2 separate regions of the Homo sapiens genome follow, and region 2 is linked to region 1. The links come from fine-mapping of genetic effects on gene expression. Tissue or cell type: visceral fat. Region 1 holds a variant in brackets; the other region holds the start of a gene. All regions are shown on one strand. Distances are between the middles of the regions.

What was found. PIP is the estimated chance that this variant, and not a neighbour inherited with it, causes the effect.
Region 2: it holds the start of SLC29A1, and the variant in region 1 is fine-mapped to the expression of SLC29A1 in visceral fat (GTEx, PIP above 0.99). The same link has a PIP of 0.9 or more in subcutaneous fat.

Annotation. Positions count from the first base shown.
Region 1 is chr6:44,201,256-44,204,011 of GRCh38, reverse strand. It overlaps a transcript of MYMX not described here. Among named protein-coding and RNA genes, the nearest start is that of MYMX, 14 kb to the left of the region's middle. RefSeq lists enhancers at 1-457, 458-1,458, 1,459-2,458, 2,459-2,756. The variant C/T (reference allele first, on the strand shown) is at 1,487.
Region 2 is chr6:44,222,309-44,224,808 of GRCh38, reverse strand. It overlaps SLC29A1 (solute carrier family 29 member 1 (Augustine blood group)), which reads right to left and starts at 1,214. Exons shown (of 13, transcript NM_001372327.1): 1 at 1,168-1,214. RefSeq lists enhancers at 135-284, 527-1,385 and a silencer at 975-1,374.

The DNA of each region.
Region 1 (2,756 bases):
GCCGGGCATGGCGATGCGTGCCTGTAATCCCAGCTACTCAGGAGGCTGAGGCAGAAGAATCTCTTGAACCCGGGAGGCAGAGGTTGCAGTGTGCCAAGATCATGCCACTGCACTCCAGCCTGGGTGACAGAGCGAGACTCTGTCTCAAAAATAAATAAATAAATAAAAATAAAGAAATAAAACATAAGTTCCTTGAGAGAAGGGACTTGAGAGTAGGAACAATTTTGTTGTGGCCCAGTGCTTGGCAATAAATACTAGTAAAAATTGTTGTAAGAAATGTGAAAGGAAAAGAGACCCCAAACTCACAAAGGGAAAAGTTAAGCTTGGGAACTGAGTCACACAAAAACTGCCTTATTTTGGTTCCTAAACAGACAGCTGCAGCAATGGAAGGCCGCATATTTCCCCAGGTGACCTTTCTCACAAATTGCTCAGGAGGAATTCCTTGTGGGCTCCAAAGTCCTCACCCTAAGGCCAAGTTCTGTTGAATCTCACCAGTAATGGACTGTTCCTCTTTTCCCTCCTGCTGCTCTTTCCCCTTTAAGAATGGAAATCCTGAAACTGTCTTTGGAAAAAGGACAGGCCACAGAGCCTTCTGTAACTTTTGTCTCTTTTTCCCAGGCTTATCGTCAACCTTGGCAAAATAAACCGCTAAGTTGACGGAGATCTGTCTCACACACTTTTTTTTTGGTTTACGGAACAAATAAATGAAGGTTCTGTGGCAGGATCCAAACCCAGGTTTGCTTGCCCCAGAGTCTGTGCAGCTGGGTTCCAGGGCTCCACTGATCTAAACACACTCCCAGGATGTGTGTGAGAACCCCTGGGCTGCACAGACAGCTGGAGAGAGTCTCGAGGGGAGGAACGGCAGGCCCTGATGGCTCCCTCTGAGAACCACCAAAGTGCGTACTCCACGGGGAACCGTGGAGGCCCCACCAAGCACTGGCCCACATCTGTGGTTGCTGTGACCTTGGCTAAGTCACATCCCACTCCTCCCAGCCTCAGTTTCCATAGCTGTGGGATCTTCCAGCGGTGAGATCCTTGGACCCTGGGGTAAGGCCCAGATACTCCTACCCCACCGCTGCCTCTTGTAAACAGAGTGAGAGATTCCTGGGCCTGGGATGATGAGGCAGGTAAAGGAAACTAGCTATTGTCTCTGGGAACAATGGGGAACTCCAGAGGGGTTTGGGCAGGGAGGTGGGGGAGGGGCAGTGGCTGGCTCCAAGGAATGGATCTAGTCTTAGTTTACTCTCTAACCCCTGACTCTTCCTGGGATTAACTGCCCTCTCCACCACCTTCCCATCCTCACTTCCATTAGCTCCACCCCACCTCCCTTGCCTGCCCCAGACATTTTCTCCAAGGCGGGAACACTAAAGCTGCTGTGGATTTCCTCAGCATTCCTGGAAAAATAACCATCTTCGTCAGGAACAAAGCCGCCAGGGAGCAGTTTCTTCCAGTTCCCAGTTTAGCCTTGTGTCATGGATCCTTCCTG[C/T]ACTTCCCTGACCTCTGCCTCCCATGCTCTGCAGGCAACTTTGAGGAAACTGACCAAATCTCCTGTTTCCTTAAGGTCAATTGAAAAAAAAAAAAAATAGTATCTGGATACCAACCTGTGAAGGTGAGGACTGTGGGCTGGCACTAAGTGGCCCCTGGGATCTGCCTTTGTGGTCCACTCCCCAGATGCCCAGGGCCATCCAGAAACATTCTGGATGATGCCCATACACAGGCATCAGTTAATCGGGCCAGACATGACAACATACATTGTGTGCCAACTGTGTGAAAGCCCGTGCAAGGCTCTGGGTCAATGGTGAAGAGGACAGACACACCAAGAGCCACCAGAGTGACAGACAGCAGATGGGGAAAGCAGGAATGATAGCAAGAGTTGCACTAGAGCTAATGGGTTCTTGCCAGACCCACGGGCACCGAGAGTCCTGCTCTTCCCACCCCTTCTGCATGTCTCCACCCAGGCGCTCAAGAGCATGCTGCGACAGGCCACTGCCTCCGCATGACTTGCATTAAAAACATGTGTCTGGGTCCCAGCTCGTGAAGTTGGCTGGAGGTGCTTCTGAGTTGGTCGCTCTGGAACCACATGCTGGCTCTGGGACCCTCTCTCAGGGCCCCTCTGGATGCCAGAGCAGGCTGTATATTGCACAGCGGGAGTTGAGAGTGGCACCTTCCGGAGCTGTGCTATGGGGTGGTCCCCCTCCCTAAAATGGGAATTATAATAATACCTACAGCTGACCAGATAAAGAGATGAGGAGAATGTGAGGCTCAGAGTTTGGCTACCAGGTAGGTGTCTCATAAATATTAGTTTCCTTCCTTCCACCCTTATGTCAGAGGCCAGCAGAGAACTTGCTGCTCCTTGGAGGCCTGATGCAAGGCACCCTGCTGCTCATGGGCAGCACTTAGATCAGAGGCTGGGGCTCTGTTAATGCTTGAAGAATCAAGGGAGGCCTGCGGAGGCTGTGGCCCCTCGCTCTGTCATGTTTCACTGGCCTGTTGTCCTCTGGGAAATCAGCATTGGTGTGGGGCCCTTCCTGTTTGTGGGAGGTTGAGGACAGCTCTGACCCCTAAACAAGGAGTTCTGACAAGGAGCCAGGGAGGCCTCATCAAGGGCAGGGTGTGTCAAGGGGTGATGTTACCAAGGAGCAGGTGGGGAGACCTTGGGGCCAGGAACCAGAGCCAGCCAGGTATAGGCAGTGTGGGTGGGGAATGGGCGGAGTTCTAGCCCAGGAACTGGGAGCTCAGCCCTGTCATAATCACAG
Region 2 (2,500 bases), 21 kb before region 1:
TGCCTTGGCCTGCTGAGGTGGGCCCCTGAAAGTAGCCACCAAATTGAGTACCTCCCTGCCTCCAGACTCCCAACACCTCTCCTGCAATTCTCCACTCCCAGGATTTCATATGGGGCTAGCCACTACCTGCAGATCTCTTGTCTTTTCTTCACAACCACCCATAAGCTAGTACTAGCACTGAATAGATGGGGCCAGCTGAGGTTCAGAGGGGTTGAGTCACTTGCCTGAAGTCACAGAGCTGGTGAGTGGAGGAGCTAGAATCCATATTAAATGTTCAAGCTCCTTTTGGAATGGAGAGAGGTATAAAAGCTGCTTCTCAGTTAGCCCTGTAGACTGGGAGGTGGGGGGAACTCTGATTCAACTAAAGGGAAAAATGAGGTGGAGACCAAGATCATTCCCAGCCTGACTTGAGTGTCAGGCAGCTCAGCCCCGCCCCATCACACACATCCTGGCATGGGGAGCTTACACAAGCAGGAGGAAAGTTGGAGGGTCTGGAGGCCACCGAGAGGAGTAGGCAAAGGGACTACCACAGGGCTGCAGAGAGACCCCTAGAGGTGTGAGGGCAGGGTTGGAGCCAGCCTTGACCTACGACTGCTCTCTCCTGGTAAGCAAAGCCGAGGACTGTTTGTCTTCACCCTCTCATATACCCTCACAGTAAATCAGTAAATGAAGACGTGCGCAGGAAGGAGACGCCAGGGATACGAGTTTAGCCAGTAAAAGACCGGGGTTAAAGAGACAGCCCCGCACCTCCGCTCGCGAGCCTGCACCTCCGCTCGCGAGCCTCCATCCCCATCCCCATCCCCATACCCCTCCGCCAGCGCAGTCAGCGGCACGGCCCCTCCCTGATACCGACCAGATCGATGGGGATCACCCGTCCACTCGCCTGCCCCTTGCGGAGGTCAACGTGACCGCAGCCTGTTTTAGGCCCGGGAGCCAGGCCGCCCCGCCCAGCTTGGGTCCCGGTCCCCGCAGGGTCCTCAGGCTCCCTGGCCCGTGCGCGCCACGTGCTGCGCGGCTCCGCACGCTCCGCACTGGGGCCCCACCCGGCGTCCCTTCTCCGGGCTGCGGAGCCGTCAGGCCCGCCCTCCCTGCCCTCCGTGGCAGGCGGGCAGCGGCGTCTTCCGCCCCGGCAGTCCCCAGTCCCCAGTCCCCGGCCCCGGGCAGCACCTGCCGCAGAAGCACTGCTCCCGCGCTGAGATCCGCGCGCTCTCGCTGCAGCTTCCCTCTCCCGCCGGGGCACATTCAAACCCGCCCTCCGCTGAGCTCGCCCCGCCCTGCGCCCACTGCCACCTCCCCGACGCCCGCGGCCCCGCCCCCGGCCCACCCCTGCCACCCCGCGGCGACTCCGCGCGCTCCGCCGCTCCCACCCCGAGCCCCTGCGCCCCCAGGGCCGCCTGGTCGTGTTATTGCGGTAGATAGGACCTCTTTGGGCCCTGCCACACCAAGGCTGTCTGTCCATCGTGTGGGGTACATGGGGCTGGAGGGTACAGCCACACATTAAGGACCTGCGCAGACTCCCATAAAATTCATCTCGGGACTGTTCCATTTACACACCCGCTGCTCAGACCGGCCCCGACGCTCCACGGCCCACTCCACCTCAGATATTCCGTTATCCCTTCCCAAGCCCTGCCCACGCCGCGCTTCCTCCACACTGCACCTTTTTCCTCCCAGCGCCCTCCCTTTCAGCGCCCCCTTCTTTCTTTCAGTCCCCCTCCTCTTCTTTTCCTTCAAAACTGCTTCTGTCCCCACCGCGCATTTTCTGTGACCAGCATGATGGGTTTTCCCATCCCTGACACATCCAGTCCCAGCCACAGACGCGCAAACACCACCCCACTCACAACTTTGACTTGGAGGGGGTATGTGCCTCTGCCTGTGCTTGCGTGTGCGCGCGGAGGGGGGTGGGGCAAAGCCCTCCAGCTCCCTCATAATTCACCCTTTCTAAATCCAGCACTTTGGAAAACTGAGGCACAGGTGGGAATGGGAAGAGAAAAAGCTAGGAACAGCCTTATATCCTCAGTGAATCCTATTGTCCCAGCCATCCTGACAGGCGGAAGCCTTGCTGAGTATGTCTTTCACTAGCTAAGGAGGAAGGTGTGGGCGTGCTGAGGGGTGGTCCAGCAAGTCCCTCCAAGGGAGGGGGAGGGAGGCCCTCTCTTTGGTCGGGCAATAAATGGGGTGGGGTGGGGGGCACTCCCTGCCCTTCCAGCAGTACTCAGTGCTAGAGGATGATCCTAAGGCTGGAAAGGTCCTGAGGAGAAAATCCAACCCACGCTGCCCACCCCATGCCCACTGACCCGAAGGGCTTGTCCCCTAGAGAAGCCACAGACACTGATTAACAACTGGCAGTACCTCACATCATAGGGATAAGGTAGTCCTACCCTGTCCCCAGAGAAACAGACAGGGCCCTAAGGAGAGAGGTGGCTTTTCTAATTAGGGTCAGTGGCTCTCCCCAAGCTACTCCAGAATGGGTGTCCCCAGCCTTCTGTTTCCATGCCCCACA